4 linked regions of the Homo sapiens genome follow. The protein of the gene in region 4 interacts with the protein of the main gene of each other region in a pairwise test. Each region holds a gene or a part of one and is shown on either strand. Other genes may lie near its edges.

Region 1 (4,399 bases), on a different chromosome or scaffold from region 4:
AGGACTGTGTCCTGTGACCTGCTGTGTTTGTCCCCAAAGTGTCCGTGAGGAGTGGGGTGCAGGGCCTGCCACGTAAAGTTAGTGGGTGAGGGCGGGATGGTCTGGCCTGCGTGCCTTTCCTAACTACCATGTGCATGGTTTTTGAACATTCTGAATCTTACTGGCTTCCAAGATGGGCCGTGGCAGGGCAGCACTGGGATATGTGAAGACCTGGTATGTTTGTGTGAATCTCTGCTCTTACTTTGTAGTTTAATTTGTATGTAAGAAAAGTCTGTGTTTATCTTGTTCTGTTTATTTTTATTTATTTATTTTGAGGGGGGGAACAGAGTCTTGCTCTGTCGCCCAGGCTGGAATGCAATGGCACAATCTCAGCTCAGTGCAACCTCTGCCTCCCGGGTTCAAGCGATTCTCCTGCCTCAGCCTCCCGAGTAGCTGGGACTATAGGCATGCCCCACCACGCCCGGCTAATTTTTGTATTTTTAGTAGAGACGGGGTTTCACCATGTTGGTCAGGCTGGTCTCGAACTCCTGACCTCAAGTGATCTGCCCGCTTTGGCTTCCCAAAATGCTAGGATTACAGGCGTGAGCCACAGCGACCGGCCTATCTTGTTCTGTTTAAATGGTTTTCTCAAATGCCCACGAATGCCAGGCAGGGATCCCAGGCAGCAGAGACCTCACAATGCCAGTCTGGTGGGCCACAGCCTCATCCACGTTCCACATAACCTATGCAGGTCCCTGAGGGAACTGAGTAAATGCTTCACAGACCAAGAATGTTGTCCTTGCCATCTGCCTGCAACCTGCTAATAAGCGTCAGGTTGTGTATGGCCAAGCCTCTCCTCTCATGCTGTCCAGTAGAAGTCCCTGAGTTTCTGGACCCTGTCACTCATCACAGCAGCAAGCTAATGTGCTCTCGTGGGGCCTGTGTTGGACTTTTCCTTGTGCCCTCTGTAGCCACTGTTTTTTGAATGCCCACAGTATGCCAGGCACAATGCCAGGTTCCTAAGCTTATTTGCCGGGCGCTGTGCTGAGCCTTTACTTGCGTTATTTCATTCAGCTTTCATGCCCTCTAATGGCAGTGCCCTTAGTATCTCCATCCTGCATCTGAGAACACTGAGGCTTAGTGACTGAGGGGCGTGCCCCAGCTCACCTGGCTGGTAGGAGCCGGATTGCGTCCGCCAGAACCTGAGCTCTGCTTTATTTATGTATTTATTTATTTATTTATTTATTTATTTATGAGATGGAGTCTCACTCTGTCACCCAGGCTGGAGTGCAGTGGTGCAATCTCCACTGACTCCAGCCTCCACCTCCCAGGTTCAAGCAATTCTCTCACCTCAGCCTCCCAAGTAGGTGGGATTACAGGTGCCTGCCACCATGCCCGACTAATTTTTGTATTTTCAGTAGAGACAGGGTTTCACCATGTTGGCCAGGCTGGTCTCGAACTCCTGACCTCAAATGATCTGCCCACCTCAGCCTCCCAAAATGCTGGGATTACAGGTGTGAGCCACCGCGCCCAGCCTGAGCTCTGCTTTATACTCAAATCTTTCTCTTTTTTTTTGAGGCAGGGTCTCTGTCACCCAGGCTGGAGTGCAGTGGCACAATCACAGCTCACTGAAGCCTCAGTCTCCCAGGCTCAAGCGATCCTCCTGCCTCAGCCTCCCGAGTATGGGAGTACAGGCATGTACCACCATGCCTGGCTAATATTTTGGGGGGGTTTAGTAAACAAAGGGTCTCACTATATTGCCCAAGCTGGTCTGGAACTCTTGAACTCAAGCAATCCTCCAGCCTCAGTCTCCCAGAAGGCTGGGATTATAGATATAAGCCACTGTGCCCAGCCTATACTTGAATCTTTAATGTTCATCCCAAACCCTAAAGGTAGACATTACCCCCATTTTATGGAAAAGGACACTGAGGCTCAGAAAGGTGCTGTGACCCGGCCAAGGCCCCCTTGCTAGTGAGTGCAAAGCCAGGACTCGAACTGTCCCCCAGCTTCTGTCTCCTCCTGGGCCAGGCTTCCCCTGAGCTCCTCCCTGCCCCCAGCCCTGGCCTGCAGCTGCAAGGGTTATTTTCATCTCTCCTGTCATTCCAGCAAAACCACTGGGCCAGTGAGTCAGTCTTGTGGTTAAGGGAGGAAGGGTACTGTTGGGAGCCCGCAATGGAAGACGTTTCTTCAGCGGGTGGCCCCCGGGCCCTGCAGTACCCCTGCACCGAGAGAAGAGCCATGTTCCTCTAGGCCTGCCCATGGCTTTGGGAAGTCAGTGCCCTGGATAAGCCACCAGCCTTCCCCACAAAGGCTCAGGAGTGGCAGTTGAGAAGTATTCACTCCCAATTCACTTGGACCCCCTTGTCCTCTCCACCCAGGTGTCAGCGGTGCCCACTGTGCTGGCCATGAAGAATGGGGACGTGGTGGACAAGTTTGTGGGCATCAAGGATGAGGATCAGTTGGAGGCCTTCCTGAAGAAGCTGATTGGCTGACAAGCAGGGATGAGTCCTGGTTCCCTTGCCCGCGTGGGACCCCAATAGAACTCAGCCCTTCCATGCCAGCCCTTCCTGCTGCCTCCCTCCTGTCTGGCTCCTGGGGCCCATGCTTAGAGCCCAGGCTCCAGCCCTGAGTGCTTCCGAGCTGGCGGACTGCCCAGGGGCCATCAGAGGATGGTGGTGCTGCTGCTGATCCGGGGACCGCTGTCTTCCCTCCCATACGCCTTTCATCCCTCCTTCTAGGGCCTATGGCAGTTCTCCCAGGATGTGTGGCGAGAGCCTGGGCCAGCCCACAGCGTTCCTAGTCAGGCAGCCACACCTTGGTCCTCATCTTGGTCCCTTCCAATCTGAAACCTCGTGCCTGGCTCGTCTGCCACCTACATTTCTCTTTCCAGCTGCTGTTTTGTAAAAAGAAAAAGAAAAAAGAAGCCCAAACTAGTGAGAGTAATATCTAATTATCTCATTTTTTGTAGGTCTGTGATAAAGAACTTAGTCATCCCTTCCACCTCCTACTGTGAAGAACAGACCCTGGGTCCCACACTGAAATCCCCTCTAGTCACCCATTCCCACCCCCCAGGGAGCTGCCTCCCAGGCAGGGGGTGCAGAAAATGATTGATGGGCTGGGGAACCCTGGAGAGCCTCGACTCCGGAAGTCTCAAGGTGCCTCCTCCTCTCCTTAGCTGGCCCGTTGGTTTTCTGAGCAGGGGGCTGAACTGTGAACAAGTCAGACAAATAAAGCAAGGGTCTGCACCATCTGCAATGTCACATCTGTGTGGGCTCAGAGCACTTGTCACCCTTTCCCAGGGGGCTTGTCCACTGTCCCCACATCCTCCCCTAACTCCACAACACTCTCTCCAACCAGCCCTTCCTGTTCACTAACATGCTTGTCAGCAGTGGCTGCTATTCTAAGGATGCCATGTGCCAGTCCTCGTGCCCTCCTAAGGCAAGAGGCTGTTGTCCCCATTACCCCGATGTAGACACTGTGGCTCATGGGATGCAGAGCTGGGGTTTCTATCCAGACGTGGTTGCCTCTGAAACCTGGGCTCCCACAGCTGATCCCCTTGACCCTTCTGAGGCCTCCCCAACTGACAGGGCTCCTGGCTGCCCCAGCAGGTGCCTGGCCCTGTGGGGATCAGGCTATCCTTCCCATGGGTGCCTGCAGGAACTTCTGGGCCTTGGGACCAGACAACCCCTCTTGGCCCCCAGCTCCCCTTGGCCATAGAGGAGTGTGCCAAGGGAGCCAGGCTTGCCAGTCAAGAAAGCCTTCCTTCCGTCTGCCTTGCTCCTAGGGCCAAGCTGTCATTAGGGCTCGGTTGCCTGGATGAGGCCCCAGCTTCCTGTGAATCAGGTGCTTGGCGGCAGGGGGATCCTGACACCCTACTCCGTGGCCCCAGGGATGCCATGGGGCTGGTATTGCTCTGTTCTCAGAGGCTCACCCTGTTCTATTAGAACTGTCTGCATTCTCCAGGGGCCCACCCAAGGACTGCCTTGGGAAGGCTGCCGAGACCGAGGGAGGAGAGGGGCCCGTGGCCTCTGAAGGACCCCAGACCCTGGGGTCTGTCACAAGCACATGGAGGGGACAAAACCAGCAACTGGCGTCAGTGGAGACGGAAGCTGGTGGAGTGAACATCCTGCAAAGGCCAAAAGCCCTGGTTAAGATGAGCAGGACCTGCCCAGACTCAGGAGGCACCTCCCAGGTACCTGGCACTGTTTTGAGGGTCTCAGCTCAGCACAGCCCCGCGGGAAGGCGTTGCCCTTCAGATTCCACCTGAGACCTGCCCCGAGAGGTTGAGGAGCCTTCCCCAGGTCACAAAGCCCCTGAGTGGCTGAGCTGGGATTCAAGGCCAGGCAGCCTTCCACACCCACCCCCAGGAACCACCCTCGCTGCCTCCTGTCATCTGATAGAAGGTGGCGTGTGTGTGATC
Region 2 (5,351 bases), on a different chromosome or scaffold from region 4:
GAAAAGTGGGGTGAAAGGGGGTGGCTCCTGCTCTCCTGAGCTTCTGTGAAATCTAGTCGAAGAGACAAAATAAACACACAAGAAACAAAGAGCTGTCTTCAGAAGTGAAAGGCTAAACTGCAAGTCACAGCAGCTGTGGACTCTCAGAGGGAAAAAGAGGCCCCACTAAGGAAGTGAGACTGGAGGGAGAGGGAGGGGCAGAGACTGGCAAGGGGAAGAACTGGACTGAGAGCCCCCAAGGAGGTGGGGAGAGGGTGTGACAGCAGGGAAGAGAGGGGGGAAACCAGCTTGATGTGTGAGGGATGAATGGCAGGGCCATCTTAATGGAGTCCCAGGGAGAACTGGTGAGCTTGGTAGAGTGACCATCTGCAGGAGTCCACTGTTTGGAGACGAGTTCAAGAGTACTCTATTTATTGCTGTGCTGTGCTCTCACAGGACCTCGCCTCCTGACAGGGAAATGGATGAGGTGGGAAGATAAAGGCAAGATGGGGCAACTCAGTCCATCTGAATCCTATAAGGCCACCAGAAAATTTTAAAACCTCCAACTCTTACCCTTTACCCATCCTCCTCCCCCTCCACTCATCTACCCACCCACCCATCCATGCATCCACTCACCCATCTATCATCCATCTACCCACCCATCCATCTAATCAACAACTATCCATCCACCTATGAATCCACCTCTTCATCCATCCAATCAGCAGCCGCTGAGCACCTGCTCTGTGCTGAAGAAGAACAACAGACATGGCCCTGCCATCATAGAGCTTGCATTCTACAGAGGTGCCCAGATCATTCAACATGAGGCTGCAAGGAAGTATGAAGGGGATGATGGCAGCTCTAGTAACATGAAGCAAAGGGGGCACTGCCCCCAACCTGTCCAATGGGGACATTAGTACTAATAATGGTGCTCTCTGCTGCCTCATACAGAAAGAGAGGTTATGACTGGACTGTAAGCTTCCCGAACTGTTTTATTCATCTCTGGGCCCAAACACCCAGCTAAGGACCATCACTCAGGACAGGCTTACTGAACTTAATTGATCTGAACAGACTGTAAGAATTGTTTTCCGACTCTTGACAAGCTCCTGGCTTCAAGAATTCAAACCTTAGGCAGAATGCTTTGGCTATACCTATTGTATTTGTTTACTAAATAGTTACAGAGTAAAATAAGCACATTTTGCCAGGGACCTTAACTGGCTTCCATGAATGAGTTTTGGCGACATTACAATGCAGAACTGCACATGTGCATATTTTAATGGGAAGAAGTGTGTTTCTAGCGGTCACAGGATTCTCAATGGGACCTATGCTACAATAATGATTAGTTTCTCTGACCTACCACGTTCCTGCTATTGCAGTGATGCTGAATGGACTCAAAGTTAACCCTCCATACAGCTCTGCCCTCCAACAATGTACCAGCTAGTGGGGAAGATGACATGCAGTTACCTAACTAAAAGACAAGGTGAAAAGGGGCAACTTCCATAAAATAGAGGGAATTTTCAGAGAGACCTCAAAGATCTATGCCTCAGTTTCCTCACCTGCAAAATGAAGACAGAAGTTATTTTTCTTAGGGTGTCTGTGAGGGCTAAACATGATGACACAAGGGCTTTGTAAATGTACCATGCTATGGGACTGGTACTCAAACAGATATATAGACCAATGGAACAGAACAGAGACCTCAGAAATAACACCACGCATCTACAACCACCTGATCTTCGACAAACCTGACAAAAAGAAGCAATGGAATAAGGATCTCCTATTTAATAAATGGTGCTGGGAAAACTGGCCAGCCATATGTGGAAAACTGAAACTGGACCCCTTCCTTATATCTTACACGAAAATTAACTCAAGATGGATTACAAACTTAAATGTAAAATCCCAAACCATAAAAACCCTAGAAGAGGCTGGGCGTGGTGGCTCATGCCTGTAATCCCAGCACTTTGGGAGGCTGAGATGGGCGGATCATGAGGTCAGGAGATCGAGACCTTCCTGGCTAACACGGTGAAACCCCGTCTCTACTAAAAATACAAAAAATTAGCCGGGCGTGGTGGTGGGCTCCTGTGTAGTCCCAGCTACTCGGGAGGCTGAGGCAGGAGAATGGCGTGAACCCAGGAGGTGGAGCTTGCAGTGAGCCGAGATTGCTCCGCTGCACTCCAGCCAGGGAGACAGAGTGAGACTCTGTCTCAAAAAAATAAATAAATAAAAATTTAAAACCCTAGAAGAAAACCTAGGCAATACCAATCAGGACATATGCATGGGCAAAGACTTCATGACAAAAACACCAAAAGCAATTGCAGCAAAAACCAAAATTAACAAATGGGATCTAATTAAACTGAAGAGTTTCTGCACAGCAAAAGAAACTATCATCAAAGTGAACAGGCAACCTACAGAATGGGAGAAAATTTTTGCAATCTACTCATCTGACAAAGGGCTAATATCCAGAATCTATAAGAAACTTAAACAAATTTACAAGAAACAAACAACCCCATCAAAATGTGGACAAAGGATATAAACAGACACTTCTAGAAAGAAGACATTTATGTGGCCAACAAACATGAAAAAACGCTCAACACCACTGATCATCTGAGAAATGCACAATGAGATACCATCTCATGCCAGTCAGAATGGCGATTACTAAAAAGTCAAGAAACTATAGATGCTGGTGAGGCTGTGGAGAAATAAGAATACTTTTACACTGTTGGTGGGAATGTAAATTAGTTCAACTATTGTGGAAAACAATTCCTCAAGGATCTAGAACGAGAAATACCATTTGGCCCAGCAATCCCATTACTAGGTATATACCCAAAGGAATAGAAATCATTCTACTATAAAGACATATGCACACGTATGTTTATCGCAGCACTATTTACAACAACAAACACTTGGAACCAACCCAAATGCCCATCAATGATAGATTGGATAAAGAAAATGTCAACATATATACCATGGAATACTATGCAGCCATAAAAAGAAATGAGATCATGTCCTTTGCAGGGACAGGGATAAAGCTGGAAGCCATCATTCTCAGCAAACTAACACAGGAACAGAAAACCAAACACTGCCTGTTCTCACTCATAAGTGGGAGTTGAACAATGAGAACATATGGCCACGGGGAGAGAAACATCACACACTGGGGCCTGTCAGGGGGTGGGGGAGTTGCAAGGAAGGGAGAGCATTAGGACAAATAGCTAATGCATATGGGGCTTAAAACCTAGATGACGGGAAGATAGGTGCAGCAAACCACCATGGCACATGTATACCTACGTAACAAACCTGCATGTTCTGCACTTGTATCCCAGAACTGTCAGTAAAATTAAAAAAAAAAAAAAAAGTACCGTGGTACAAAAGGTAAGGCAATGGCATGATTTATGCCAATGTCGATGACTACTTAGATCAAGGTTTTCACTAGGGAAGGCCTCGATGCAGCCCTCATTCTTCTAGCTATTCAGACCAGAAACCTCGGAGTCACCACTGGCTCCTCTCTCCTTCTCATACCCACATCCATTCCAAGAGGAAAACCCCATTTGCTTGACCTACAACACATACATCCCGAATCTAAGCATATCTCACTGTCTCCACTGCTCCCTCCTGCTGCAAGCCACCGCCATCTCTTGGCCTGAGTTATCACTGTTGCTGCCTAACTGGTCCCTCTCCTTCCACATTTAATTCCCCCTGATTAATGCACCATAAAACTGCTATGTTCAATCCTCTTAAAACTTAAGACAGGTCGTCCTACAATTCTACTCCAAATCCTGCAATGTCCCCCTCCCCCATTCAGAGTAAAAGCCAAGGACCTCACAATACCTACGAGGCACTGCTCCCTATGACCTCTCTCAGAGAATCCATTCCTTACTGCTTTGCATCTTGCTTACTCTACTGCAGCCACACTGGCCTCCCACACATCAGAGAGGCTTCCTCCTCTTTATATTGGCTATTCGTTCTACTTAGAAGGGTCCTTCCCTGACTGCCACCGCCAGGGAAGCCAGCAGCAAAAACCCACTTTCCAGGCAAACCCTCAAGGTTCAGCTGACACTGGGATGGCCCTGCTGCTGCAGCCCACCATGTCAGTCAGGGTGTCTCTAGGCCTGGCATTGCACCATTTAATTCAACCAAACAAATGCCTATTACCCCATTCAGACCCTGTGCCGTGACAGTGTGCACGTCATACTGTCCACCTATGTCTCCAACCATCATCTTAGCTTAGGCTGTGATCCAAGGGGCCGTGTGCAGTCAGGGGAACTGAGTGCCCTAGAACAGGGGTCCCCAACTCCCCAGGCCACCGACCGGTACTGGTTGGTGGCCTGTTAGGAACCGGGCTGCAGAGCAGGAGGTGAGCAGCAGGCAATCCAGCATTAGCCTGAGCTCTGCCTCCTGTCAGATCAGCAGGGGCATTCGATTCTCACAGGAGCAGGAACCCTATTGTGACCTGCACACGCGAGGGATCTGGGTTGTATGCTCCTTATGAGAATCTAATTAATGCCTCATGATCTGAAGTGGAACAGCTTCATCCCGAAACCATCCCTCCCGCCCCGCCCCACCTCCCCATCAGTCTGTGGAAAAATTGTCTTCCACCAAACCAGCCCTGGTGCTGAAAAGGTTGCAGACCACTGCCCTAGAGTGATGAACGGAGAGGGCTCTGGAAAGTGTCCACATTGGCGGTCATACTTTCTCCAGCCTCAGTTTCTGCCACCATGACTTTAAACCAAAGCAGAAGCTGACCTGGTGGGGTGCAGGGAGACAAGGAATGACTTTCTCCAAGGAGAACTAACAACAGAATAAGACTTAAGCAGCTCACAAACTCAGCCTGACTGTTTTTCAATTCACACCAATTAAGGGAAGGGGGAAGAAAGGAGAAAGTGCCTATTAAAGGGAACATTTGTGGTGTCTCCGCCCAGACTCCTCTGGAGTTGCGTGGTGATAAGCACTGTCATTCCCCATTTGCAGAACATATGCTGCAGAGCACAGACTGTGGCACCCATGTGTAATTGACTATTGAAAAAAAAAACAAATCCAAAGGTCCAGAAATTAGCGGAGCAGTATGGTGACTACATTTCATCTCTCAAAAGACAGCAGCAATAGGATGCTGATCTCAGGAGGAAGCAGAGCTTAGAAAACACAATCTGTCTTCAAGGCTCATTCAAATGCAAACATTATGGTCAGGGGCAAGATGTCCACTGCCTAATGAGGTGCCCATATAACTACGGATTAGGACAATCTCCTTACATGAACTCAAACAGCCAGCCCAGCAGGCACTCCTAAACAGACCCAAATTGCTGAAGCATCTGAAAGTAGGAAGCCCCGGCACCTAAGAATTGGTGGCAGGAAGGAATTAGATGTCTAATCCATGTATTTTTGTT
Region 3 (4,802 bases), on a different chromosome or scaffold from region 4:
ACTTTCCATTTTAAGTCTGTGCTTTAAGAGGGACCCACAGGCATGTGGCACCACGCAGTCTAAAGTTGGTGAAGGAGACTGCACTTTTTGTTTAGTCACCCACACGTTCTCTAGCGAGATACAGAATTGCATTTATACTCTTTTCTTCTACATGAATGATCCCTCTTATCTCGCAAGAGGTGGGGGAGAAAGAGAGCTGCATCGGTACAAGGGCACAATTTTTTTGGTCAAAAGTTGACACCTTTTAAATTCCCTCTCCCACCCCTCCCTGGAAAAAAGTTACTTCCTTAATTAGGTTTTCTATTTAGTAACCAACATTGACTGGACAGAAAATATGAGGCTTGGGTTCCAAATAGATGAGCTTGTTCTTTTTTGGGTTTGTACCGTGCAGTTCTTGCTACAGTTGTTAAGGAGTTAGGGCTATGTCCCATCAGGAGGCATCTGTAGGATTTTGATCTCCAAGGAATTGTGGGTGAGTCGCAAATAGTTTGCTCAGAAGTAGGCAGAGTCAAAAAAGCAACTTCAAGTAATTGATTCCTTTGTCCAAAAGAGTTAAAACATTAAAGTATATGCGGGACTTATTTTGTAATATTTTAGGGTTTTGAAAAATAAAATATGGAAATCAATTTTTTTTAATTTTGTTTTTTGCTTTTTTCCCCCCCTTTCCAGATGCCTCCTGATTGACCTAGTACACTGGGTTAAAAGGGAATTAAAAACATTAAAAAAAAAAGTTCACTGGTTTTGATTCATCTCACTCCTTTTGCCTGGAGATCAGGCCAAACATCAAGCATGTTGGGAGGGGCACAATTTAAAGCAACACTATTGACTGTAAAGCATCTGCCAGCAATTTACAGTGCAAAATGACAGGTAACAATTCTTGTCACAATGCAAGAGAATGGCAAGCAGCTTTCTGTAGCATGAAAGTTAACAGCTCTCAGGTTGCCCATTCCTGCAAAAGTTTATGTATCAAAGCGGGCAGAGGGCAACACATTTACACACTACAGGAAATGATCCACAGAAAATTAAGCTCCAGAACTGCTAACATTACCAAAGCTGGTACTGGCTAATATTCTGAAATGCAAATCTGTGCTTTATATATATACTGCTCAATGACACTGCCACTCAATAGAATTCCTACACTGCAAGGTAGATTAATCTTTGCCCCCTGTTGCAGAGCTTGAAATATTCCTCAAACTTTTAGAAAGGGGGAAGAAGCAAAATCAGAGCTTCTCAAAATAAATGTTGAATTATCAATGTTTTGAAGCTTCCTTGCTCTCTCTGGTAAACCTACTCCAAAGGTACTAGATGAGACAGTGTGGCAGCAAACAGTACATCCCAGATTTCTGGGCCCCTTTACTAACACAGGGTACCATAGAAATCTGCTCTCTACAGCACGAGGCCAAAGTACTTTCTAGAATTTAGTGTTGCGTAAAACTGAGCCCCTCTCATCTTTAGCTGCTCCCATAATCACTCTAATCCCCTTAATCCCAGCAACCTTCATCCAAAAAAAAATATATATATATGTATATATATATATATATATGAACCCAGAAAAAAAACTTATTTACAAAGTTATACAAGTATACACACCCAATTTTCTATGGGACACGCTTTGCCACAGAGGAAAGAGGGCCAAGGCTCTGACATGTCTACACATCAAGTGCCATACTACTACTGGAGGCATATGTAACCCAGTCTTTAGTGTCTGCTATAGAGCACAAAGGCTTGTCATATGGCTCCTGCAATGATAGACTGCTCTTTCCTTTGGGAGCGATGATGTTTTTTATCTACTCAGCCCAGAAGAAATTTTTACTTGGGATTGTTTTTTTAAATACATGTATTTACAGTGCGGATGAACTGCAGTTGCATATCAACTCCTCCCCAAAAAGAAAAAAAAAATGGTGTTTAACATTACTAGTGAGTTTCAACTTCTAGCCCTGGGCTCGAGTACTGGGTAGAAAGGGAAGAGACTTCAACCTGAAACCAAAATAAGAAGACATTTTTTAAAAGAAAAAGAAAAAAAAACGGAAAGAAAGAGTTACTATTGTTGATTCCTCGGGCTGTGTCTAAAAGATGATATTCTGAATGGTCTCATAGCATAAGGCACTTCGCACAAATAAGTAATAAGCTCTTCAGGCTTAAAAAACGGATGAGGAATCAGGGAGAAGTTGAAATGCACGAGAGTCAGCTGTTGGAGAATTTTGAAATCATTGACAAGCTTGTGTGTTCATTAAGATTCTTCTCTTTTTAGGGTTTCTCCCCTTCTCTTCTTTCTTTTCCTTCCTTGTCCCCTTTCCCCAGAAAACATTTTTTAAAAACCAGCAGTTAGTGCAACTAATGTTCAGTCAGCACACAGTGCAAACAAGTGGAACAAAAAAGGTATATTCCTTCTTTTCAGCCTTTTTCTCTTCACCAGTTAAAAAAAGAAAATGTCTGAGCTCTTTTAAGTCTTCATAGTTCCAAAATAAAAGATGAAAAACCCACAAAGAGAGGAGCATTCCCCCCAAAACGATGTGTCACAGATCCAAACGAGCCTTTTGTAATTTGTCAAAGCCTACAGAAGAAGAGAATACAAAATTAACATTCTGAAAGCAACACAAACTAGGATACATAGGTTTTCACAATCCTCATCCCAAATGCTCTTTTCTAGTAGTTTCTACTAACCCTGTGCCTACTATAGAATCTACTGGTTATAGGATTAAATAATTTCTGGTAGGCAACCCTGAGATAGATTGGGGGCCTGAATGAATGTGAATGTTCTGATAGCAGGCAGCCCTCACTCGTAACAAATCCGGGGGAAAAAAATTAACCTTACACAAACTGAATACTCTGCCAAAGTACTAGCAAACATTGGCTAGTTTCATGCTTGTCCAAGAGTTTGTGTTTGATGTTTAACTTAAGGAAAAAAAGAGTACAGAGTAATTTAAAAATTATTTAAGTAACAATTGGTTGGGTGAGGTGGCTCCTGCCAGTAATCTCAGCACTCTGGGAGGCTGAGGTGGGCGGATCACCTGAGGTCAGGAGTTTGAGACCAGCCTGGCCAACATGGTAAATCCTCGTCTCTATTTAAAAAAGAAAGAGAAAAAAAATTTAAGTAACATTAGGTTACTTAAATAGGTAAGATGTTCACCTATAACTTGGAAACTATCCTTTGTCAAATCAGATTTTCTTTAGGAAATACTGAAACAACCTACCTTGCTTAAAGCTGAGCCTTGTTTCATGCATTTCTAACTAGAGCCCAATAGTCACCAAAAGATGATAGAGGCAGGGCGTGGTGGCTCACACCTATAATCCCAGCACTCTGGGAAGCCAAAGTGGGAGGATCATTTGAACCCAGGAGTTTGAAACCAGCCGGGGCAACATAGTGAGATCCCATCTTAATAAAAATAAAAAAAAGATGGGAAGACAGGTTGTCCAGGAAATCAGAGTGGGTATTTTATTTATGTATTTGACGGAGTTTCACTCTTATTACCTAGGAAATCAGAGTGGGTTATTTATATATGAGGCAGAGTTTCACTCTTATCGCCCAGGCTCGAGTGCAATGGCATGACCTCGGCTCACTGCAACCTCTGCCTCCCAGGTTCAAGAGATTCTCCTGCCTCAGCCTCCTGACTAGCTGGGATTACAGGCGCCCGCCACCATGCCTGGCTAATTTTCTGTATCTTTAGTGGACACGGGGTCTCACCAGGTTGGCCAGGCTGGTCTTGAAGTCCTGACCTCAGGTAATCCACCCACCTCGGCCTCCCAAAGTGCTGGGATTACAGGTGTGAGCCACTGAGCCAGCCCAAGTGGCTTTTTTTTTTTTTTTTTTTTTGAGATGGAGTCTAGCTTTGTCACCCAGGCTGGAGTGCAGTGGTGCGGTCTCAGCTCACTGTAACCTCCACCTCCCAGGTTCAAGTGATTCGCCTGCCTCAGCCTCCCGAGTAGCTGGGACTACAGGTGCGTGTCACCATGCCCGGCTAATTTTTGTATTTTTAGTAGAGACAGGGTTTCACCATGTTGGCCAGGATGGTCTCGATCTCTTGACCTCGTGATCCGCCCACCTCGGCCTCCCAAAGTACTGGGATTACAGGTGTGAGCCACCGCACCCGGCCCAGAGTGGGTATTTTAAAAAGATGGCCATCCTCATAATCTGATTAAACATTTGCTAATAAGGTATTATGGATAGTTTTATCAGAGTGATTAATGTACTTACTAGAAATTAAGAGTAAATGCTAAAAACATTTTACATTTTCAGAAATGTAAATACTTTCATATTCAAAACTGCTGGCAGTGTGGTGGCTCACACCTGTAATCCCAGCCTCCCTTTAGGAGGCTGAGGCGGGTAGATCACTTGAGGTCAGGAGTTCAAGACCAACCTGGCCAACATGGTGAAACTCCAACTCTACTAAAAAATACAAAAATTAGCTGGGCATGGTGGAGCATGCCTGTAATTCCAGCTACTTGGGAGGCTGAGGTGCACCAGAATCGCTTGAACCTGGGAGGCAGAGGTTGCAGTGGGCCGTGATTGTGCCACTGTACTCCAGCCTGGGCAACAGAGCAAGACTCTCAAAAAACAAAAACAACAAAAATCCCCCCTACAAAACTGTCAAAAAAGGCCAGGCACAGTGGCACAGTGGCTTGCGCCTATAATCCTAACACTTTGGGAAGCCAAGGCAGGAGGACTGCTGGAGTTCAGGAGTTCTGGACCAGCCTAGGCAACAAAGCAAGACCTTGTTTCTACCAAAAATTTAAAACATTAGGCAGGCGTGGTGGCATGTGCCTACAGTTCCAGCTACTCAGGAGCCCAGGAGAACCAGGCT
Region 4 (5,963 bases):
TTCAAATGTTTTTGGCTTCACTTTTTCTCCTCCCTTACAGAACTCCACTGACATGAATGTTAGATCGTTTGATATAGCCCCAAAATTCCCTGAGACTCTATCTTTTTAACACTATTTTTTTTCCGTTTTTCAGGTCGGATGATGTCTATTATTGTATCATCAAATTCCCTGATGTTTTCCTCTCTGGCCTGCATTCTGCTGTTAAGCCCATCTCCATTGAGGTTTCTATTTTGGTTCTATGGTATGTTTCAGTTCTGAAATTTCCACTGGAGTCTTTCCATCTTCTTCATTGAGTCTTCTCTATTTTTGCATTTGTTGTAAGAGTTTATTGAAGCATTGCTTACTGAAGCATTTTTATGATGACTATTTAAAAATCATTGTCAATAAGTAAAATAGTGTAACTGGATGTTTGTAACACCAAAGATACATGCTTGAGGGGATGGACACCCCATTCTCCATGTGATTATTACACATTGCATGCCTGTGTCAAATCATCTCATGTACCCCATAAATATATACATCTATGTACCCAGAAAAATAACAAATAAAAAGTTAAAAACCCTTGTCAGTTAATTCTAACGTCTTTTTCCTCTTGATGTTTGAATTTGTTGATCATCTTTTTTCCTGTAAGTTGAGATTTTATGATCCTTGGTATAAAGAGCAATTGTTGATTGAAACCTGGACATTGGGGCATTATGTTATGAGATTCAGGATACTGTTTAATCTTATGTTCTAGCAGGTCTCCTCTGACACTGTTTTGGCAGGGGAAGGGGGACACTGCTTCATTCCTACCAGGTGGGAGTAGAAATACAGGTTCTCTCCACTTTGCCCCTATTGACACCCAAGGGGAGAGCCCCCCTCATCACTGCTGGGAGGGAGGATTTTAGACTCCTTACCTGGCCTCTGCTGATACCACCCTGGCCAGGAGGGGCAGGAATATCTTGTTATTGCTCCCATGCAGCTTCCACTGACACTGCATGGGGGTGGCCTTGGTACTGCTGGAGGAGGGAAAGAGTTCTGACTGTCCAGTAGGACTCTTGTGACACTAACCCCAGAGGAGAAAAGAAGAGCCTCACTGCAGCCTGTAGAGTTAAGTCCAGGCTTCCCGTGTGGTCTCCACTGATACCATGATGGTGGGACAGGGAGTGCTTCCATGTCTCATAGTAGGAATGAAAGTCCTGGATCTCTCACTTAGCCTTCCCTGATTCCACCCCAGTGGTGAAGTTTGAGTGCCTTATTACAGCCTGGGAAGGATAGAAGTCTGGACTCCCCACCTGGCCTTTCCTTGTGTGGATATGGGTGGGTGAAATGATATTTTCTGTGGTGTTTGGCTGAGTTGAGTGGTTATTGTCTAAAGGTTTTCCGCCTTTCTAGGCTGCCTCTTTTCTGGTTCTTTAAGCAGAGCAAGCTCTTTCTGTTTGTTTGTTTGTTTGTTTTGTCTGCACCTGTTGGTGTTTCTGGTTGTTGGTTTCTCCAGCTCCCCCTCTGGGATATATGAGATAAAAAGCTAATCCAGGGAGCTCACCACAGTGTCACTCCTGGAGTCTCAACATCTTTAGGTGGTTTGGCTTCTTCTTCTACCTTTCAGAGTCCTCTTATGTTTATTTGATATGTAATTTCCAGGGTTTTTAGGAGGAGGAATATGGAAATATACATCATTCTGGAAGTTCTCTACCTTGTTTTTTAAATATATGAGAATAATTATTCTTATAACCTAAATGTCCAATAACAGATCAATGTACCTTATGGTACATTATGCAACCAGTAAAATGATGGCTACAGGCTGGGTGCAGTGGCTCACACCTGTAATCCCAGCACTTTGGGAGGCTGAAGCTGGTGGATCACAAGGTCAAGAGATTGAGACCATCCTGGCTAACACGGTGAAACCCTGTCTCTACTAAAAAAAAAAAAAAATTAGCCTGGTGTGGTGGCAGACACCTGTAGTCCCAGCTACTTGGGAGGCTGAGGCAGGAGAATCGCTTGAACCCAGGAGGCAGAGGTTGCAGTGAGCCCAGATAGTGTGACTACACTCCAGCCTGGGTGACACAGCAAGACTCTGTCTCAAAAAAAAAATAAAAAATAAAAAAAGTGATGGCTACAATACAATCTTATGTTTTTATTAGAATTAAAAATGCTTAGATGACATAAATGAAAGAAAGTTTACACAAGTGTGTGCATATGTTAGTATGATTATAGCTGTGTGGAAAAATCTATTATAAGAAAGAAAACTGGAAGAAAGTACCCCAAAATATTGACTATGGCTGTTTGGAAGATGAAATCATAAGTGACCTTTTCCCTTTTAATGAGCCAAATTTAAAAAAAGAGAATCTAGTACTTTTATAATCAAAAAATACATTTTATCATATTTTATTCCTAATATTTTTCCTCAGAAAGATACACACAACTATTTTCTAAGATATATGACATTTCTCATGGGTTCATTAATTTATTTGTATTTGAGGAGTTAAAAAATATTTTCAGCCTGGGTTTATGTACATTGAAACTATGGTTATGGGTTTAGATGATTTCCTTGCCATAAAATGAATATTCTATCAACAGTAATCAGCCATAGAGCTATATTTACCACGCTAAAGGAATAAAACACGTTTTATTTGGAGATGAGCAAGAATGCTTTATGGGCTTCCAGTATACCACAAATAAGCCGGAAGGAGAGGAAATAGTAAAGCAGAAAGACTGAGGATACCTGGAGGGCAATTCCAGGATATGAGAGCCTCCTGGATTTGTGCTTCCGGTTTGGATGTCCCTGGTTGAAGCCCCATCTCCTTTCTAGGATGCTGCTGGCTTTGATTCCTCTACCTGCTGTCCTTAACATTCACAAGCAGCAGTTTTCAACAGTGCAGATGACATAGGCTGAGCATGGCTCACAAGTGTTGCTCGAGGTGCATGTGGTCGAACATGGGCTACAGGAAAGCCTGGGGAAAAATCGATTTTCAACCAAGATTAACAAGGGAATGTTGATAAAATGGCAACTCAGAAAAACCGTGTCAAAATTTGCCCTACAAATTATGTTCTGAAAAAAACTCTGCACAATAGCATTGACTGAAGCCTGTTTCTTCTCTGCACCCAGAATTGCCACTTCATGTTCACTGTAGCAGTGGCAGTTGAATAGTATTTTATATTTTTTCTTGATTTTGCAAATGTTATCTTAGGCCTATTCCTGATTTTCCTTTAGTGGAAAACAGGAACAAAGGGAGATGCCAGCATGAAATGTTACACTAATAATTAATCTGCCTTTAGAATATTTTAAAAATATCTCTAGTGTCATGTTCTTAACCTCAGCCACTTTTCAGCACTTTTTTAAGAAGATCCCTAAACACACTGGGGAGGTCTGAACTTGTCCAGACTTTGGGGAAACAGGATTCTTTTACATCAGCCTCTTTGTGACTCTGGGGGATTTCATGAGTAACTGTGGAACTTGCCTGCTGTCCTCGCTGTCCAGCAGGCCCCAGTACGTGTTGATCTCACCCTCCAGCCGGGCCTTCACGTCCAGGAGCACCTGGTACTCCTGGTTCTGTCGCTCCAGGTCGCAGCGGATCTCGGCCAGCTGGTTCTCCAGGTTATCGATCAGACACTGAATTTGGGCCAGCTGGGAGCTGTACTGGGCCTCGGTTTCTGCCACGGTGCATTCCAGAGATTCTGTCTGCGGGAGGAAACATTGTCCAAAGGACCATGAAGTGCAGTCTCTCGGGCCAGAGTGCCTACTTTCAAATTCCTGCTTACCCTTTTCTAGCTATGTGACCACTGGCAAATTATTTAGCTTCTGTGAGTCTCAGTTTTATTCTCTGTATAGTGGAGAATACAAAGTATCTGTTTCATTAGACGGTTGTGAAGATTAAGAGTTAATATGCGGGCTGGGCGCGGTGGCTCAGGCCTGTAATCCCAGCACTTTGGGAGGCCGAGGCGGGCGGATCACAAGGTCAGAAGATCGAGACCATCCTGGCTAACACGGTGAAACCCCGTCTCTACTAAAAATATAAAAAATTAGCTGGGTACGGTGGTGGACGCCTGTAGTCCCAGCTACTCAGGAGAATGGTGTGAACCCGGGAGGCAAAGCTTGCAGTAAGTCAAGATCATGCCATTGCACTCCAGCCTGGGCGACAGAGGGAGACTCCGTCCAAAAAAAAAAAAAAAGAGTTAATGTGCGTAAAGCATTTAGAACAGTGCCAGCCATACTGCCACTGTTCTACGTGTCAACTATCACTACCACCACTATGACTACAGCAATACATGACATATTTGTGAAGCTTAAGGACTATCCACAACATATGAGAGGAAAGATTGAGTTTGGGCTCTTGGCAGGGAGGGGTAGTATAGTGCTATTAAGAGAAGAGGCTCTGGATACCAGAGGCTGGGACTGGCATATGTGTGGTAAGGGGATGAAGAGAGGTTGGTTAATGGGTGCAAACATACAGTTAGACAGAAAGAATATGTTTTCATGTTGGACAGCAGAGAAGTGTGACTACAGTTAACAACAATACACTGTGCATTTCAAAATAGCTAGATGGGAGGACTTGAAATGCTCCCAACACATAGAAATGATAAATACTTGAGGTGATGGATGCTCTAAATATCCTGACTTGATCATTACACATTCTATGCATGTAACAAAATATCACATCTACGTAAAAAAAATTTACGCATATTATATATCAATAAAAATAAATTTAAAAAGAGAGAGAGAAGAGACTCTGGGATTCAACTGGCTGAACTCAGCTTCCAAGTTTGCCTCTTAGAATTGCATCCTTTGCAAGTTACTTAATCTGAGTCTCAGTTTTCCTTATCTGTGTCATGGGATAAAGGTATCTATCCGGTAAAGTTACTGTGAGCCTTAAATCAGCATAGTGCCTCTCACAGGATGAATGCTCAGCTATTGTTCTTCTAGGTGTTCTCCGCAGGGCCTAATGACATGCACACAGTGGTGCTTGACCAGAACTGGTTCATGTCATCTTGAACGCATGGTGTTCCTGTTGCTTGAGTGGGGGGTGGTGCAGTGAAGGATAAGGTTGAAGTGTAGATCCTGGGAAACTGTAGGATGAAATGTTTGAAAATGATTCTTTGTTTTAGATATAACAGTGAGCCTGGAAAACTGGCCTGAATCAAATGAGAATTAAAACCTGCCAGAATGCTTAAGCGACCATGGCCCGGAGGTTTCTCTCCAGCTCTGCTTCTCCCTCCCTGTCTCTGGAGGCTGCTGCAGCATCAGACTCAAGCCCAGGAGTGAAGGTAAGGCATCTTAGAGGACAAGCTGTGGACCTGTCACTTCTGCTTCTATTAATAGCTGGGTAAACGGCAGTACTCGGGAAAGGCAAGGAAATGTGATCCTCGGATATGGAAGAGGGCTTAACATCTCAGGGCCTGACTTATCAGTGACACAACGGACACTGCCTTTGCCTCACGCACCAGGCTTTGCTGTGCTTGGAGCTCAATTTCCAGAGCACTGGCTGTGCGTTTCAGTTCCAAGATCTCCATCTGGCAGCCCTGCAGCTGCTCCGCGCTGGACAGTTGCTGCTGATTCAGCTCTTCTGTCTGAAACACAGACACCATTAGAGAATTCAAAAAAGGCAGAAGTCTGTAAGCCTGACATTTTTTCAATCTGGGTACTGACCTGAACAGCCAACCATTCTTCAGCTTCTCTGCGATTGTTGGCAAGCACCGTTTCACACTGACAGCGCATCTCATCCAGGACCCTGTTGAGGTCAAGGGTGGGGGCAGTGTCCAGCTCCACACTGAGGCGGTCGCCAAGCTGTTCACGAAGCAAGTTGACTTCCTGAAAGTGGGATGGTGTAAAGAATGTCACAGAATGGTGGGGAAAAATCCATTTGACATCCAATGGCATTCTACTTCTGTTTTTTGGAGCAGTGGGTAAAAGTGTGAGATTTTGATTCAGATTGCCTGGGCTGAATCTCTTTTCACCACTTAGAAGGGCCTCAGTTTCTTCGTCT

What was found. Proteins that work in one complex are often made in the same cells at the same time.
Region 1: the proteins of KRT40 (region 4) and TXN2 interact in binary tests that used the Homo sapiens proteins (3 or more experiments, as listed by UniProt).
Region 2: the proteins of KRT40 (region 4) and DOCK2 interact in binary tests that used the Homo sapiens proteins (3 or more experiments, as listed by UniProt).
Region 3: the proteins of KRT40 (region 4) and DDX6 interact in binary tests that used the Homo sapiens proteins (3 or more experiments, as listed by UniProt).

Annotation. Positions count from the first base shown.
Region 1 is NC_000022.11:36,465,876-36,470,274, reverse strand, and holds the end of TXN2 (thioredoxin, mitochondrial precursor), read left to right. Parts: intron 1-2,357; coding exon 2,358-2,471; 3' UTR 2,472-3,229; downstream 3,230-4,399.
Region 2 is NC_000005.10:169,642,594-169,647,944, reverse strand, and holds part of DOCK2 (dedicator of cytokinesis protein 2), read right to left. Parts: intron 1-5,351. UniProt on the Homo sapiens protein: Involved in cytoskeletal rearrangements required for lymphocyte migration in response of chemokines. Activates RAC1 and RAC2, but not CDC42, by functioning as a guanine nucleotide exchange factor (GEF), which exchanges bound GDP for free GTP.
Region 3 is NC_000011.10:118,749,544-118,754,345, forward strand, and holds part of DDX6 (probable ATP-dependent RNA helicase DDX6), read right to left. Parts: intron 2,555-4,802; 3' UTR 1-2,554.
Region 4 is NC_000017.11:40,975,364-40,981,326, forward strand, and holds the end of KRT40 (keratin, type I cytoskeletal 40), read right to left. Parts: exon of another isoform or gene 5,962-5,963; coding exon of another isoform or gene 5,938-5,961; exon of another isoform or gene 5,789-5,937; coding exon 5,627-5,788; exon of another isoform or gene 5,548-5,626; coding exon 5,422-5,547; exon of another isoform or gene 3,662-5,421; coding exon 3,441-3,661; intron 2,934-3,440; coding exon 2,834-2,933; 3' UTR 2,352-2,833; downstream 1-2,351. UniProt on the Homo sapiens protein: May play a role in late hair differentiation.